Homo sapiens: one gene and its partner. The protein of the gene in region 1 interacts with the protein of each later gene in a pairwise test. Each region holds a gene or a part of one and is shown on either strand. Other genes may lie near its edges.

Region 1 (9,110 bases):
CTCCCTCAGACCTAGGAGTCCAGATCCAGCCCCTCCTCTCTCAGACCAGCAGTCTAGACCCCAGCCCCCCTCCTCCCTCAGAACCAGGAGTCCAGACCCCCTGCCCCTCCTCTCTCAGACCAGCAGTCCAGACCCCATCCCCTCCTTCCTCAGACCCAGGAGTCCAGACCCCAGCCCCTCCTCCCTCAGACCCCCTCCTCCCTCAGAACCAGGAGTCCAGACCCCCAGCTTCTTCCTCCTGGACCCTTCCTCTTAGGCATTTTGAGGTCCTCTACTATTCCCTCTCCCTCTCTTTTACACAAACCCCTCTCTCCCTCCACTCCCCATTCTAGGATTGAGACCAAGGGTGAGTCACAAGAAGCCCTGAGGCCCTGAGTCACCTCGCCCTCCCCCCTTGGCCCCTCCCTGGGCTGGAGGCAGCTGGCTGAGGAGTGAAGCAGTTTCCTAGGACTGACCCCTGCATCCCAGGACTGCAGTTTGAAGGCAGGTGCCCTTCCCACTGTAACCCCATCACTGCCACCCAGGCATGTCCATGCCCATCCTTTGCTGTTTTTCTCTTTCAGTCATGGCCTATTTGGAGACAAAATTTCTCTGTGCTCTAACTTCCGTGTCTTGATTGTGTTTTCCGGTTTCTCTGCACCTGTGGGTCTCTTTGATTTTTTTTAATACATGCCCCCACCATCCCTGGCTGAATGCCTCGAGGTCTCTCTGATTATCTCTCTCTCCCTCTGTGTCAGTCTCTGTCTCCGTTTTTCACAAGTGCCTGAACTGGGGCACAGATGCCATGGCATGGCCGCAGCTGGAGCGCTATTTAGTGGCTTCTGACCCTTGGGTGGCCACAGTCTCTGGATCACTGGCCCTCAACCCCTGAGTGGGACTGGGGTAGAACCGGAAGGAACCAGGCTGTCCGTAGATGTGCCAGTGAACAGCAGAGAGAAACTGAGGCAGAGACAAGCATAGAGAGGCCCGGAGAGAGAGAGAGAGACCCAAGAGGAGACCAGGAGGCAGGGAGAGAGTGAAACAGAGACGGAGAGAAACACCGATTCAGCAAGAGACAGACAAAAACAGAGGGCCCTAGAGACGGAGAGATGGAGACAGAGTGAGACACGATGACAGAGACACAGGCAATGATGAACACAGAGAGAGACATGACAGAGAGACAGTGACGGGGAAAGAAGGAAACAGAGGAGCAGAGAGGGACACGAAGATGGAGAAAGGGACAGAGCGATGAGAGAGACACAGAGAGGCTAAGAGAGGCAGAGACAGAGAGACAGAGTGAAGAGAGACAGAGAGAGACAAAGGTACCAGGAGAGAAGAACAGAGACAGAGATAAAGACAAACCTGGCCAGGCACGGTGGCTTACGCCTGTAATCCCAGAACTTTGGGAGGCCGAGGCGGGTGGATCACCTGAGGTCAGAAGTTCACGACCAGCCTGGCCAACATGGTGAAACCTCGTCTCTACTAAAAATACGAAAATTAGCTGGGTGTGGTGGTGCACACCTGTAATATCAGCTACTCGGGAGGTTGAGGTAGGAGAATTGCTTGAACCTGGGAGGTGGAGGTTGCAGTGAGCCGAGATCGTGCCACTGCACTCCAGCCATGGGAGACAGAGCAAGACTCTATCTCAAAAAAAAAAAAAAAAAAAAAAAAGACAAACGCGGAGGTTTCCAGATCAGGAGAGACTGAGACAGGAAGCAAGTCCCAAAGAACCAGAGAAAGAGCCGGAGAGGGAGGAGAGAGACGCAGCGAGCCGGGCGGCCAGTGGGCAGGGGTGCCCAGGCTGCAGGCTCAGGAGTGCCCGGCGGCTGCACTTTCCCCAAGTGGACGCATGTGTGGTGTCTGGGCGCGCCCGGGTGTGTCTCCAGCCCTCTCCCGCCAAGTCTCGCCGAGTGGGTAATTGTGTGTGCCGAGGGGCGGAGCCCCCGCAAGGGTTGTGTTTTTGCCACTGGGCGTGTCCATGTGTATGGTTTGGTGTCTCTGGGTGTGTTTGTGTGGGCTGCCTTGGTGTGCAGTCAGACATGTCTGTGCGTGTCTCGCTTCCCTGGGGCTGGTGGGTCCAGGGTCCCACACGACCTAGGACACAAGGAGGGGGAGGGTTGTGTCCGCAGGTTCCTTGCAGAGGGGTGTGCATGAGGCCAAGGGCAGTGTCACCAGTTCAGTGCATGATGCTGGGAGGTGATGTGCGTCACCAGGTCAGTGCATGCCTGTGTGTCTCCACAGGAGGGTTTGATCTGTGTCGGAGCGTATGGTGTACAGATCCATGAGTGGCTCGTGCTGCGACACATGGAGATGTCCTATGTTGTGTGTTGCTCTGAGAGTCACCGTGCACATTCCACACTGGCATTTGCTGTATCTCACGTCAGGGTCCATGTCCCTGTTGGGGGCCTCTTCCTTCTCAGCCCCCAGCACCCACCCTGAGTGCCAACCACCCCAAGTGTCTTGTGTTTGTGTAGCTGTGTGTTATGTTGTGTCAGAGGATACACCCCCCTCCCCCGATGCTGGTGTTGTGTGGGTGGCGGTAGACCTCAGTGTCAGTAGTATCAGTGAGTGGTGACATCTGGTGTTTTATGGGACATGTGGTCGTTTGTGGAAGGTTGGGTGTGTTGGAAAACATTGTGTTTATGTGTTTTGCGTTACTGTGTGCTGGTGTATTACTCCGCGTATGTTGTTGTGTGGCCACGCATGTTGGAATATAACGTGTTGGGTTGTGTGGAGGTATTGTATGTCATGTTTGGGTGTGGCTCATGGCTCAGAGGTGATGGTGTATGTTGCGTTTGTTTTTTTGTTTTTGCTTGTTTTAGAGATAGGATCTTGCTATGTTGCCCAGGCTGGTCTCAAACCCCTGGGCTCCAGCAATCCTCCCACCTCAACCTCCCAAACTGCTGGGATTACAGGCATGAGCCACTGCACCCAGCCGTATGTTGCATTTGGGCACTGGGGTCTATGAAGGTCCAACCCCATCCCCTTCCCCCAGGGCATCATCCTGGATGTTGTCCTGTGTGGCCAGAATATACCAGAATCATCTTGCTTCAGGCATGTGCTTCTTGGGTTTCTCCGTGTGTCGCTGTACCTTGTAGGTCTCTGCATGCATCCACTCAGCTTGTCCTCTGACCATACATTTGAATCGCACCACACATCAGAGCATGCTGAATCAGTGCGTGTTTTGAATCATCACTGCGAGCACTTGTGTTCGAGTCAACAGGCGCCACAATGTATGTGCAATTCTCTAGCTCTGGGTGATTGGGGGCTACTATAGGTATGTCCCTAAATGTTGTGTGTCTACACGTATTGGGTTTCGTTCCAAGGGTGTGTAGTGTTTAGGAAACTGGGACTGCACAGTGTTTGTGTCGGTGTGTGGTGTGTGGCATCAGGGCGTCACTACTTTAATATATATTGTGTGTTTGTGTAACACCTGGTGTATGTTGTGTTTGTGTGGCCACAGTTGTGCATCGTCCTATTTGTGGTGTTTGGGTGTGGCTCTTTGTGTCAGAGAAAGTTGTGACAACTTTGAGTGTAATATTTGTGCCTGTGTGTGGACGGTGTTTGGGTGGCTGTGTGTGCCACGGGATACTGCCTGCTTGCTAAGTGCTGGTGTGTGTCACACCATGTGTGTGGTGTCTGGGTGTGGCTGTGGGTTTCAGAGCTTGCTGGGAGTTGTGAGTCACTCTGTGTAGGTTGTGTTGTGTGCCCTGGTGTGTTAGTCTCCGTCTTGGGCTGTGGAGTGTCCTTCGGTGTCTGGGTGTGGTGAGTAGAGGTGTGTGTCACAAAGTACAGACCATTGTGTGTGACAAAGCCCATCGTGTGTCTGTGTGTGTCTTTATCCACGTGGATGGACGTCTCTTTCTTGCTCTGCCCCAAGACACACCCTAGCCCCTCCTTATTCTCAAAAGGGGGAGCTGGGGAGCCTCCCCCTACCCTGGGGCCTCCCCTGCCCCTCCCCGCCCTGCCTGGCCGTCACCACTCCCCAGAGGGCACAGGGCTCTGCTGTGCCTCAGAGCAAAAGTCCCAGAGCCAGCAGAGCAGGCTGACGACCTGCAAGCCACAGTGGCTGCCCTGTGCGTGCTGCGAGGTGGGGGACCCTGGGCAGGAAGCTGGCTGAGCCCCAAGACCCCGGGGGCCATGGGCGGGGATCTGGTGCTTGGCCTGGGGGCCTTGAGACGCCGAAAGCGCTTGCTGGAGCAGGAGAAGTCTCTGGCCGGCTGGGCACTGGTGCTGGCAGGAACTGGCATTGGACTCATGGTGCTGCATGCAGAGATGCTGTGGTTCGGGGGGTGCTCGGTGAGTGGGGCATGGTGGCTGGGAGCTGGGACTCCTAGGTCTGAGGGAGGAGGGGCTGGGGGTCAGGACTCTTGGGTCTGAGGGAGGGGGGGCTGGGGGTCAGGACTCCTGGGTCTGAGGGAGGAGGGGCTGAGGGTCAGGACTCCTGGGTCTGAGGGAGGAGGGACTGGGGACTTGGACTCCTGGGTCTGAGGGAGGAGGGACTGAGGGCCTGGACTCCTGGGTCTGAGGGAGGAGGGGCTGGGGGTCAGGACTCCTGGGTCTGAGGGAGGAGGGGCTGGGGTCTGGACTCCTGGGTCTGAGGGAGGAGGGGCTGGGGGTCAGGACTCCTGGATCTGAGGGAGGAGAGGTTGGGGGCCTAGACTCTTGGGTCTGAGGGAGGAGGGGCTTTGGCTGGGACTCCTGGGTGCTCCCAGGAGACAGTTGCTGGGGTCCTTCTCTGCAAAAGGAAGGGAATATTTGTTTCAGTGTTTCAGTCTTTGAAGATGTTGCCATTAGACGGCCAGAGGTCCAGGACCCCTGGAGGCCAGAGGGTGGCTGATCAGACACTCAAGCCCCCCAAGAGCCAATAAGGGGAGAGGTAGCCCCAGGTTTGGTGAAGGGAGAGTGGAGGAAAGACAAAGTTCTTCCAGTAGGCGGCAGCTCTTTGGTCCTTGTCTAACCTCTAATGTTTACCCAGTGCCTTAGATGCAAAGGACAGAAAAAACTGCCTTGGGGGTGGGGATGGGAAATGGGAAACAAACCTCTCCCCCGACCTGCCTCCCCCCACCAACCCCAACCCAGTCTCCACTGTTAACAAGCTCAATTTCTCCCCAAATCTGCATGCTGATTAGTCAGGGAAATAGTGGAGAGGTAGGCTTACAGTGGCCTGGACTCCTAGGTACCAGGAGAGGAGGGGGCTGGGTCCTGGATTCCTGAGTCTTAAGGAGAAGGGGGTTTTGATTGCTTTTGGGGAAGAGGGGCTGACTCCGAAGATGAGTGGTGAGTAGGGAAGAAAGGGGAAAGTGGGGTCAGGGCAGGTCTCAGCAGGCTCCCGTCACATTCCAGCCCTGGTCAGGCCAGTGATGGGGCAGATCAAGGACAAGGGTTGGAATAAGTGGCTTGAGGGGAGAACAGACTTGCTCAACAGGAAAGGAGGGGCTGGAGACCTCTCTGGCAGAAGGGTTGTGGAACTGGGCTGGTAGGGCCAGATGCGGACACTGATATGAAGATTGGGTAGATTCCTGAGGGTCTGATGTTCCGACTTGGATCTGGAGGGGGTGGTGGGCAGCTCTGAAGTGACCAGGAGCCACATGGAGGGTCAGGCATGCAGCTTCCTCTGGCAGGCGGCGGGCACTGAGGGGGTGGGGCCGCCGAAGTCCATGCCAACAGGAAGCATGGCCGGGGCCTGCCCGCCGCTCCCACGCCGAAGCACCGCACCCAGAAGCCGAGGTGGGAACACAGTGACCCTGGCAGATGGGAAGAGACGGGGTCCATCCTACCCCACTTCACCCCTCTGCTTTCTCACCCCTCATTTCTTCCTTCCCTCCACCATGGCCAGGCCACTGCCTCTATCAGTGGGACCTTGGGGAAGCTGTTACAACCCTCTGAACCTCAGTTTCCCCATCTGTAAATTGGGGTGAGGGTTAAAATACATGACCCTAAGGGTCACCCTCCACCCTTTTTATTTTATGTAGAGATGGGACCTTGCTTTGTTGCCTAGGCTGGTCTTGAACTCCTGGACTCAGGCAATCCTCCTGCCTCAAAGTGCTGGGATTACAGGCCTGAGCCACAGCTCCTCAGTCCCCTTTTGAGGACTCTCTTAATAACATCCACCGCCCCTCACCACCTCCATCTCAATCTAATGAGCTCATTTCTGCAAAGGACCCAGACACCTGCTCCCCAGGGGGAGGGGCTGGCAGAGAGGCAGGTGCAAAACCCTAGGGAGTCCAAGGGAACTGGATAGAGATATCCAAAAGCACCAGGTGGGGTGGAGGAGGAGGGATGGGGAGAGGTACAGAGAGAGACAGAGACACAGAGATACATGGAGAGAAAAAGAGAGATGGAGACAAAAATGCAGAAAGATAGAGAAGTACAGCTAAAGAGAAAGACAAATAGGGCTATCAAGCTACTGAGAAATCCACCAGTGAGAGATACACACACAGCGTTAGAAAAGACAATAGAGGGCCGGGCGCGGTGGCTCACGCCTGTAATCCCAGCACTTTGGGAGGCCGAGGTGGGCGGATCACAAGGTCAGGACATCGAGACCATCCTGGCTAACACAGTGAAACCCCATCTCTACTAAAAACACAAAAAATTAGCCAGGCATGGCGGCGTGTGCCTGTAGTCCCAGCTACTCAGGAGGCTGAGGCAGGAGAATGGTGTGAACCCAGGAGGCGGAGCTTGCAATGAGCCAAGATCGTGCCACTGCACTCCAGCCTGGGTGACAGAGCAAGACTCCGTCTCAAAAAAAAAAAGAGACAATAGAAACAAAGACCCTCAAAACACATAGAAAGACAGCAACAACCATCCCTAGAGACAGGGAAATTCAGAGAACAGAGTACAGGCCCAAGTGCAGACAGGTCCGGGATTTGGGGGAAGAGGAAATGGAAAAGTAGAGAGGACCACCAGAGAAGCAAATTGCAGTGTGAGGAGGGAGCTTGTTGTCTAGTGGTGTGGGCAGTTAAGACAGACTGAAGAAAGAGGCAGGGAACCAGGGAGCCATAGAAGGTGGGGGAGGGCTGGTGACAACAGCACTATTGTTCTGATAGGGGGTTGGGGAGCAGGCCCCTGGGGCAGGAAACTGGCCCTCTTCCCCTGCTCAGAGGCGGGATGCTGGCCCAGCCAGGGGAGCTGGCAGCCCTCTTAGGAGAAACAGGTGCAATGCTTTGTAAGGACGCCCAGGTGGTCCCCTCCCCCTGCAAATACCCGCCAGGCAGGGACCAACCCCTCTTAGGAAATCCAACAGTCCCAGTCCCCTCTAAATCCCTCTCTCCAGAATTCTAGATTCCTCCAAGGTTGTGCCACACAAAGAGAGGAAAAAAAAAAAAAGGAACAATTTCTCCGTGGTTTCTGGAGGCCCTGTGCTTCCGGCCAGATCTGCCCTGGGCTTAGAGCCAGAAGAGAGGGGTGGCAGTGGGGAGCTGCAGGGGGGCAGAACCGAGGGGGCTGTCTCAGAGCTGAGGCTGGGTCTCAGGGACTCAGCCCTCCGGATGAGAGCAGAGAAGGGTGTGACTCAGTCTTTGAGGATTGAATGGTAGTTTCTACATTCTTCCAGATCTGGGGTTGGGGTTGATTGAAGTTGGTTTCTAGGACAACACCAGGTGGGTAGGAAGGGAAGGGGAGGGGGCACTCTCTAGAGGCTAGATGTCTTTTTCTAGACACCACACACACACACCCACACACACACACACACACACACACACCTGAAGAACTATTTTTGATGTGAAATGGGACAGGAATAAGAAGGAATGTGAGTTTCAAGGTCCCCCTTCATGGGTATGGGTCTTGGGAGAAGAGCTGAGGAAGAGGGTAGACACCAGCATCTGGACAGGGTTGTCCTGTTGGGGAGAAAGAGAGCATTCCTGGGGACCAGATGATGGTGTTTTTTTGTTTGTTTGTTTGCTTGCTTGCTTGTTTCGAGACGGAGACTCGCTCTGTTGCCCAGGCTGGAGTGCAGTGGCGCGATCTCTCAGCTCACTGCAACTTCCACCTCCTGGGTTCAAGATTCTGGTTCCTCAGCCTCCCAAGTAGCTGGGATTACACACCCAGCTAATTTTTTGTTTTTTTAGTAGAGACTGGGTTTCACCATGTTGGCCAGGGGGTCTCAAACTCCCGACCTTCGGTGATCCACCTGCCTCAGCCTCCCAGAGTGTTGGGATTACAGGTGTGAGCCACCGCACTGGGCCCAGATGATGGTTTTGAGACTTCTCCAGAACCGACACATCAAGAGGGACTGATTTGCAGGGGAAGGAGGCTAGGAAAATTGGGAATCAAAAAAAAAAAATGGTGGTTTTGAAGGAAAGGTGGAGGGCCAGGCGGAGGGAGACCTGGGATCTCACACCGCTTTTTCCGTCCCCCCTGACAGTGGGCGCTCTACCTGTTCCTGGTTAAATGCACGATCAGCATTTCCACCTTCTTACTCCTCTGCCTCATCGTGGCCTTTCATGCCAAAGAGGTCCAGGTAGGGCAGGCCCCGCCCCTAAGCCTTGCTCCCTCCAACCCCCTCAGCGCCCTGTCAGCTCACACTTTCCACCCTCCTCCTCCTCCTGATCTGAGTAATGAAGTTCTTCTGCCCTAGGTGCTGCGTCCACACCCTCACCTACCCAGATGGGATGAACCATGAGCAGACAGGCAGAGCCTCCCCCACCAGCTCCGCCTTCCCCTGTAGTCCCCAGCCCCCCCTTGCACACTCACGGATGCTGAGAGTGCCCTTGCAGCCCTGCTTCCGCCCCCAGGCCTCTGTCCACTCTGCTCCCAGGCACTCAGCTTCCCAGATCTCTGTGCTCCGACATGGCATCCCCAATCCAGTCCTCAAGCAACCTAAGGTCCTAGGGCTGCCCACTCCTTTTTTTTTTTTTTTTTTTTTTTTTTTTTGAGACAAGGTCTTGCTCTGTTGCCCAGGCTAGAGTGGAGTGGCACGATCTCTGCTCACTGCAACCTCCACCTCCTGGGTTCAAACAATTCTCATGCCTCAGCCTCCCAAGTAGCTGTGACTACAGGCAGATGCCACCACGCCCAGCTAATTTTTTTGTATTTTAGTAGAAACGGGGTTTCACTATGTTGTCCAGGCTGGTCTCCAACTACTGAGCTCAAGCAGTCTGCCCACCTTGTCCTCCCAAAGTGCTAGGATT
Region 2 (9,103 bases), on another chromosome or scaffold:
TCTCCATCTGGAATCTTCCATGAAACTGAGGCCAGCCTTGTTCTCAGCCAATCCTACTGTGTCCAAGGGAGGAGGCGGGGAGAGGAGTATGGATGTCAGTCTGGCAGGGTTGAGTGACAGAGCTTGTTACCTAGAACCTTACTGCCCTCCTCTCTGACCTCCAGGCAAAACTATGGCTACTACAGCAGATACCCAGGCAGAAACATCGACTCTGAGAGGCCCCGAGGCTACCATCATCCCCAAGGATTCTTGGAGGACGATGACTCGCCCGTTTGCTATGATTCACGGAGATCTCCAAGGAGACGCCTACTACCTCCCACCCCAGCATGTGAGGCCAGATTTTTTGTTTTGGGTGGAACCTCCCGGGGAACAGTGTACCTCTCCCCCAACCCCCGCTCTGGGGGCCGGTGATGGATGTGTGCTGCCAGGTCAGGATCCTTAGTCCTCAAGACCAGCCCCCAGCCAGAGAGTGTGTCTGCTTTCCTTCCTTTCTCATCCATATCTCACGTGATAGAGCTCTAGCCTCTTCAGTGCTATGCTTGACTCTCTTTGAGAAGAGAGAGGCTGTGGGGCCCTAAGATTGCACGCACACATCTGGTAAGGGGTGTTTTGCATACATAGCATTGTCTTTGAACCTGGGACCATCCTGAGAGGGAGGCAAACCACACACATGCTTTTGCTGTTGTCAGCCCTGCTGCACTCTGTGATGGGGTGACTGAGCCCCCAAAGGGGAAGAGTGGGCTCAAGTGCAGAGCTGGCTGTGCCGCAGGCCTGTCTTGCAAAACCCCATGCCTCTGAGGGCCACCTGGGCATTCTGGTGTCCATCTGTCCTCAGGCCCCTCCAAGCCTTATCCTCCTCCCTCATCTCTGCTCCTCCTCCCTCCCTCATCTTCCCTCCTCCTCCTCCATCTTCCCTCCTCCTCCCTCATCTTCCCTCCTCCTCCCTCATCTTCCCTCTTCCTCCCTCATCTTCCCTCCTCCTCCTCTATCTTCCCTCCTCCTCCTCCATCTTCCCTCCTCCTCCATCTTTCCTCCTCCTCCCTCATCTTCCCTCCTCCTCCTCCTCCCGCATCTTCTCCTCCTCCCTCATCTTCTCCTGCTCCCTCATCTTCCCTCCTCCTCCTCCCTCATCTTCCCTCCTCCTCCCTCCCTCATCTTCCCTCCTCCTCCGTTCCTCCCTCATCTTCCCTCCTCCTCCCTCATGTTCCCTCCTCCTCCTCCCTCATGTTCCCTCCTCCTCCTCCCTCATTTTCTCTCATCTTCCCTCATCTTCCTCCTCCTTCGTCTTCTAGCATCTTCCTTTATCTTCCTCCTCCCTCATCTACCCTCCTCCTCCTTCTTTTCCCTCCCCCTCTCCTCCCTCCTCCTCCCTCCTCCCTCCTCCCTCATCTTCCCTCCTCCCCCTTCCTCTCCCTTGCCTTCCCTCCTCCTCCCTCACTTTCTCTGCTTCTCCCTCATCTTCCTGTCAAGTCTGTCAGTGCCCTCTGCTCACGGGGCAGGTTCTGGACTTGTTGGTCCCCTTCACTCTGGGGCCAGGAAACCCATCCCACCTAGAGGGGCTGGGGCTGGGGCTGGCTGCTTCCACCTGCTTTCCCTCTGCAGCGGTGGGTGGCAGGAGCTGGCGGATCTGGGTCATCCTGAGCAAGGAACTCCAGCTGGGGGAAGAGGTGCAGCCCTGGCCCCTTCCAGCCCTTGGCTGAACAGTTTCATTTTGGACATGTGGGCATTTTGCTGATGGTTAAGGACTATCCATTTCTGGAATTTCTGAGGAATGAAGCATATTTTTGAACAGGACTCTAATCAGTAACCAAAAATAGCCGTGACACATCGGCTTCTGAGTCTGCCAACTGCATATACTATAAAGAGCACCACTGGGAGGTGCCCAGGGCCCTCTGCCTCACTCCAACTGTCACAGCCCCACTGGGGAGTGTGACCAGACCCATTTCCATGGTTAATATTTAATTCCTCAGCCCTGAACACATGCAGCTAAATGAAGTCACTCCTTTCCCATAAATACTAGATGAAGCAGATGCAGGTGAGGCCGGGTGATGGCCCTCGCCCTTGTGAGTTCCACTGCCTTCCTCGGGCCTCGGCCTTTGTCTACTGCCTACTTGGCCAAGCAAGCAAGCACATGAATCCCACCAGCCACAGTGCCAGAGAGGAGCTGAGTGGGCAGGAGTGGCTGTGCTCTTGATTCATAAGGTGGTTTTGCTTTGCTGCCCCGCAGCTCAGACCTTGGACAGGAAGAACATTTCCCTCCTCCACCTGTGTTCTCAGCTGCAGGGGGATTCCCTCCTCCTCCAGAGAGTGTTGTGCAGAGCACATGAGATGGTGGGGATCCCTGGAGCATTTTAGAAATGGAAAAGCACCACATACAGGAGAGGGACCGCTGCTCTCCTTTCCCAGCCCCCAGCCCGGCCATTCGATCTGGAAACCTATGCTCCACAGCACAGTTGGCCCCTGGGTGGTGCGTGGAGGGAAGGCTTTCTGATGAGGCAGCCGTGTGTGTCCCATGTAGGCAACTGAACCAGGAGGCCCCACAGTGCGCACTGGGCACGAGAGACCAGGACTGGCTGTCTCGTTCCTCTCTGCTGGGCAGTGCCTAGCCAAGGACTCAGCCCGGTCTCTTGTGTGCAGCCCCAGTGTGCCTGGGAGTCCTCCCCTGGCTAGGCCCTGGGCTTTCCAATAGCGGAATGAGGGGCATGTGGAGTTTTGCCAGGGCTGAGAAAGGAGGCCCTGTGATCCGAGAAAAGCAGCGGTCAAGATAGGAGCCATAGAAATGCCTTGTAAACGATAGGTGTGCTCTCGACAGAGGCCCCTGCAAGGGGTAGGAGGTTTCTGGGAGGAGGCTGCTGGCTGTGTCTTAGGGCCCCAGAATTCAGACTGATCTCCCGGGCCTGGTGCCCTGTGAAGCTGGGAGCTGTGGATTGTCTTGTTAACCTCTGTGTGAGCCTCTGTTGGAAGAGCTGTTAGCAGGACAAGCATTTTCTTAAAATTAGAGGTGTCCTTTGTTTGTATTCAGTGCTAGAGAAGCTGAATCTTTCCCAACAAAAATAATTTGCTTATTACCTGGTCAAGCTGATCAGTGCAGGTAAAGTCCCTCCCTTTAAAACAGGTGTAAACACAGGAGCCCCAGCAAGATATGTCAGCTGCTGGGGACACTTAGGGTATCTGGAAGGTGACAGTGGGAAGTGTCGTGGGGTTCTGGCAGGACTTGTGTTCTTGCACTGAAGTGCTGTGCGCTCCCCACAGTATGCAGCGCCAGGGCTTCTGACTCGGATCAGTTGCCCTATGGGCTGCCTTCACTCCTCCTCCTGAGAACAGGCGAACGTTTAAAAGTAGTAAGTTCTCTTTGGGAGGCTGAGGCGGGTGGATCACGAGGTCAGGAGATCGAGACCATCCTGGCTAACACGGTGAAACCCTGTCTCTACTGAAAATACAAAATAGTAGCCGGGCGTGGTGGCGGGCGCCTGTAGTCCCAGCTACTCGGGAGGCTGAGGCAGGAGAATGGCGTGAACCCGGGAGGTGGAGCTTGCAGTGAGCTGAGATTGCGCCACTGCACTCCAGCCTGGGCGACAGAGCCAGACTCCATCTCAAAAAAAAAAAAAAAGTAGTAAGTTTGTACTTTAAAAAACATCCCTCACTGGGGCTTCTGCCTTCATCCTCTCCTACTAAAGTTTGGAGACCTCACTACCTAATCTTTCTCTTGGACAAACCGCATGCTTCTTCCTGGGCTCGTTGCTGAGCATCCGGGGCCACCCTGACTCTGAAAGACGGTGTCCCGGCAGAGAACTTGCTTCACAGCTGTGTGATGCCCTTTGCTTTCCCAGCCCACCGGAGATCCTCCTTCAACTTTGAGTGCCTGCGCCGGCAGAGCAGCCAGGAAGAGGTCCCGTCGTCTCCCATCTTCCCCCATCGCACGGCCCTGCCTCTGCATCTAATGCAGCAACAGGTGAGCGGCCCACCTGGCCTTGCCCCCACACCTAGGGGCACCCCACATAGGACCCCCATCAGGTCACTCCCTTCTCCTTGGCCTTAAGCACCAGGAGGGAAGGAGAGAATCTTCACCTACAGTCTAGTTAATCTTTGTAACAATCCTGTCAAATAGCTATGGCCATGAGTCCCATGCTGCCCAAGCTCACACAAGTGACTGCTGGCATTTGAATCCAGGGAGCCAGCTGCCAAAGCTGGCCTCACTGCCCAGGTGCCTCCCTGCGATCCCCACCACCTCTTCCTGGCATTGAATACAGAGCCTGATGTGATCTGAGCTCAGGGAGTGGGGGCCACTTGGCTGATTCTGAACAAGCGGTGCAGCCCTTCATTTTCTCTAAGAAGTGGTTCCTTCATTAAGTTTATGGGTCCCTCCATGGGCAGGGCCCTGTGGGTACTATGCAGGGTTAACCTCCCCTGCCTACAAAGGGAGCAGTCTGGGGAGAACAGTTTGCCCACGTTGAGGGCGGCTGCACAGGCAAGAGGGTGGGGCCGGAGCCCACTCACTAGGGCTTTCCCTCAAGGATAACAATATGGCGCTTTTTCTTTCTGAAAATATCACATCAGAGATGCCATTCATTCGTGCACGACAGGGTGGTGGGCATGGACCTGTGCTGTTTACAGACAGCGTTCCCCGTCCCTCTCTGCAGAGTGTGAACCCCAAGGTGCATCTGCCGTGGTGGGATTGTAAGACCGGGGCTTGTACCCAGTGCTTTAGCACATGCCAAATGCCGGCTCTAGGATGCATTACTCCAGAGCAAAGAGAACCAGCTGTTTTCCTATAAGTGCTGGGAAGTGGTAGTTTCCCCTGAATGTACTTCGGTATTTAAACCCAGCATGAACTGGGTGGTGTGTTCACACCCACAGCTTGTTGGGCTTCCCTGATTCTTCATTCTGAAGCAATTTCATGAATTAGCAACTGATACCTCCTTGGGAAAAGCCAAAGGAAATGCATTATGGATTCGGGGTAAAAGAAAGCACAGTCTGCTAGAAAACAAAGTCATCACCGCCCATTCATTCAGCGTACTTCAGTGTGCCCATGTCCTTTCCAAGTCCTTGCCTGGACTGCCCCTGGCGAGCGCAGCGCCGGTGCTTGGTCTGTGCGCAGAAGGTTTGAGGCCCGGACCTCTGAGAACCTCTGGTCTCCCAACAGTCCCCTCTTTCCTCAGATCATGGCAGTTGCCGGCCTAGATTCAAGTAAAGCCCAGAAGTACTCACCGAGTCACTCGACCCGGTCGTGGGCCACCCCTCCAGCAACCCCTCCCTACCGGGACTGGACACCGTGCTACACCCCCCTGATCCAAGTGGAGCAGTCAGAGGCCCTGGACCAGGTGAACGGCAGCCTGCCGTCCCTGCACCGCAGCTCCTGGTACACAGACGAGCCCGACATCTCCTACCGGACTTTCACACCAGCCAGCCTGACTGTCCCCAGCAGCTTCCGGAACAAAAACAGCGACAAGCAGAGGAGTGCGGACAGCTTGGTGGAGGCAGTGAGTACGGTTCTTGGCCGTGGTGGGCAGGAAGCACCAGGAGCAGCAGAGGTGCAACTGTAACAGCAGGAAGGGCAGTGGTGGGAGGGCGGCCAGGCTGTGAGCTAGGCTGCCTCAATCAGACACTTCTGAGCAGCAGGAATGTACCTGAAGCATGAGTAAAAACTGGTCACCACCACTGGCTGCAGTGGCTTACGTCTGTAATCTCAGCACTTTGGGAGGCCGAGGCGGGTGGATCACCTGAGGTCAGCGGCTCAAAGACCAGCCTTGCCAACATGGTGAAACCCCGTCTCTACTAAAAATACAAAAATTAGCCGGGCGTGGTGGTGTATGCCTGTAATCCCAGCTACTCAGGAGGCTGCAGCAGGAGAACTGCTTGAACCCGGGAGGTGGAGGCTGCAGTGAGCCGAGATCACACCACTGCACTCCAGCCTGGGCCACAGAGCGAGACTCTTGTCTCAAAAAAAAAAAAAAAAAAAAAAAAAAAACAAAAACTGGTCACCACCGTCAATTCTCATAAATGAGCTGTGCTGGCATTATGGGTGCTGTTCCGGCATATGTTTCTAGTTTATACTAAATGTCTTTCCCCAGTGGGTTTCACTCTTGTTGGGCCATGTGTAGTTTTTTAGCTCCAGGACATTTTCAAAGCCATTTACACTAGTTATTATGTATGAGGTCTAGAAAACATGATTGAGCTGCATCCCCAAAGCACACGGTGCAGTTAAGTTAGCACTGGAGTTGATTTTTCTGTCGTCCCCCTGCCCTGCAAAGCCTTATAACACCCCCATGCCATCCATCCCTCTTTTCTGTACAGGTCCTGATATCCGAAGGCTTGGGACGCTATGCAAGGGACCCAAAATTTGTGTCAGCAACAAAACACGAAATCGCTGATGCCTGTGACCTCACCATCGACGAGATGGAGAGTGCAGCCAGCACCCTGCTTAATGGGAACGTGCGTCCCCGAGCCAACGGGGATGTGGGCCCCCTCTCACACCGGCAGGACTATGAGCTACAGGACTTTGGTCCTGGCTACAGCGACGAAGAGCCAGACCCTGGGAGGGATGAGGAGGACCTGGCGGATGAAATGATATGCATCACCACCTTGTAGCCCCCAGCGAGGGGCAGACTGGCTCTGGCCTCAGGTGGGGCGCAGGAGAGCCAGGGGAAAAGTGCCTCATAGTTAGGAAAGTTTAGGCACTAGTTGGGAGTAATATTCAATTAATTAGACTTTTGTATAAGAGATGTCATGCCTCAAGAAAGCCATAAACCTGGTAGGAACAGGTCCCAAGCGGTTGAGCCTGGCAGAGTACCATGCGCTCGGCCCCAGCTGCAGGAAACAGCAGGCCCCGCCCTCTCACAGAGGATGGGTGAGGAGGCCAGACCTGCCCTGCCCCATTGTCCAGATGGGCACTGCTGTGGAGTCTGCTTCTCCCATGTACCAGGGCACCAGGCCCACCCAACTGAAGGCATGGCGGCGGGGTGCAGGGGAAAGTTAAAGGTGATGACGATCATCACACCTGTGTCGTTACCTCAGCCATCGGTCTAGCATATCAGTCACTGGGCCCAACATATCCATTTTTAAACCCTTTCCCCCAAATACACTGCGTCCTGGTTCCTGTTTAGCTGTTCTGAAATACGGTGTGTAAGTAAGTCAGAACCCAGCTACCAGTGATTATTGCGAGGGCAATGGGACCTCATAAATAAGGTTTTCTGTGATGTGACGCCAGTTTACATAAGAGAATATCACTCCGATGGTCGGTTTCTGACTGTCACGCTAAGGGCAACTGTAAACTGGAATAATAATGCACTCGCAACCAGGTAAACTTAGATACACTAGTTTGTTTAAAATTATAGATTTACTGTACATGACTTGTAATATACTATAATTTGTATTTGTAAAGAGATGGTCTATATTTTGTAATTACTGTATTGTATTTGAACTGCAGCAATATCCATGGGTCCTAATAATTGTAGTTCCCCACTAAAATCTAGAAATTATTAGTATTTTTACTCGGGCTATCCAGAAGTAGAAGAAATAGAGCCAATTCTCATTTATTCAGCGAAAATCCTCTGGGGTTAAAATTTTAAGTTTGAAAGAACTTGACACTACAGAAATTTTTCTAAAATATTTTGAGTCACTATAAACCTATCATCTTTCCACAAGATATACCAGATGACTATTTGCAGTCTTTTCTTTGGGCAAGAGTTCCATGATTTTGATACTGTACCTTTGGATCCACCATGGGTTGCAACTGTCTTTGGTTTTGTTTGTTTGACTTGAACCACCCTCTGGTAAGTAAGTAAGTGAATTACAGAGCAGGTCCAGCTGGCTGCTCTGCCCCTTGGGTATCCATAGTTACGGTTTTCTCTGTGGCCCACCCAGGGTGTTTTTTGCATCGCTGGTGCAGAAATGCATAGGTGGATGAGATATAGCTGCTCTTGTCCTCTGGGGACTGGTGGTGCTGCTTAAGAAATAAGGGGTGCTGGGGACAGAGGAGCAACGTGGTGATCTATAGGATTGGAGTGTCGGGGTCTGTACAAATCGTATTGTTGCCTTTTACAAAACTGCTGTACTGTATGTTCTCTTTGAGGGCTTTTATATGCAATTGAATGAGGGCTGAAGTTTTCATTAGAATGCACTCACACTCTGACTGTACGTCCTGATGAAAACCCACTTTTGGATAATTAGAACCGTCAAGGCTTCATTTTCTGTCAACAGAATTAGGCCGACTGTCAGGTTACCTTGGCAGGGATTCCCTGCAATCAAAAAGATAGATGATAGGTAGCAATTTTGGTCCAAAATTTTTAATAGTATACAGACAACCTGTTAATTTTTTTTTTTTTTTTTTTTTTTGTAAATAACAAACACCACTTTGTTATGAAGACCTTACAAACCTCTTCTTAAGACATTCTTACTCTGATCCAGGCAAAAACACTTCAAGGTTTGTAAATGACTCTTTCCTGACATAAATCCTTTTTTATTAAAATGCAAAATGTTCTTCAGAATAAAACTGTGTAATAATTTTTATACTTGGGAGTGCTCCTTGCACAGAGCTGTCATTTGCCAGTGAGAGCCTCCGACAGGGCAGGTACTGTGCCAGGGCAGCTCTGAAATTATGGATATTCTTATCCTCCTGGTTCCTTCGGTGCCAATGGTAACCTAATACCAGCCGCAGGGAGCGCCATTTCTCCTAAAGGGCTACACCACTGTCAACATTATCCTGGACTCTGTGTCTCTCTCTGTTGGGTCTTGTGGCATCACATCAGGCCAAAATTGCCAGACCAGGACCCTAAGTGTCTGATAGAGGCGATGATCTTTTCCAAAGTCAGTACTTACAAACTGGCATTCTTACAGGCTGCACCATTTCCTAGTATGTCTGCTTTAAGCCTGGTTCAACCTCTCATCGAATATTAAATTTTTCTTTGTAAGAAAAATTTGAAGTTGTAGAGCATGGTTTTTTGTTTTCCCTTGTCTTAGGAAAGTTTTAAGATGAAATGTTTTTCCTTTTTGGTCCCCTCCCCATCTGAAAAACACACATTTTTGTGTCCACAGGAATAACACATTTAGTTTCTTTAGTCTTATGTTTTTCATAATCTCACAAAATGTAAATGGCAGCTATGAT

What was found.
Region 2: the proteins of KCNN4 (region 1) and CACNA1D come close enough for resonance energy transfer, tested with the Homo sapiens proteins (one study listed by BioGRID).

The regions. Positions count from the first base shown.
Region 1 is NC_000019.10:43,775,871-43,784,980, reverse strand, and holds the start of KCNN4 (intermediate conductance calcium-activated potassium channel protein 4), read left to right. Parts: upstream 1-4,007; 5' UTR 4,008-4,119; coding exon 4,120-4,278; intron 4,279-8,344; coding exon 8,345-8,440; intron 8,441-9,110. UniProt on the Homo sapiens protein: Intermediate conductance calcium-activated potassium channel that mediates the voltage-independent transmembrane transfer of potassium across the cell membrane through a constitutive interaction with calmodulin which binds the intracellular calcium allowing its opening.
Region 2 is NC_000003.12:53,804,819-53,813,921, forward strand, and holds the end of CACNA1D (voltage-dependent L-type calcium channel subunit alpha-1D), read left to right. Parts: intron 1-164; coding exon 165-328; intron 329-3,830; coding exon 3,831-3,952; intron 3,953-5,159; coding exon 5,160-5,480; intron 5,481-6,294; coding exon 6,295-6,588; 3' UTR 6,589-8,915; downstream 8,916-9,103. UniProt on the Homo sapiens protein: Voltage-sensitive calcium channels (VSCC) mediate the entry of calcium ions into excitable cells and are also involved in a variety of calcium-dependent processes, including muscle contraction, hormone or neurotransmitter release, gene expression, cell motility, cell division and cell death.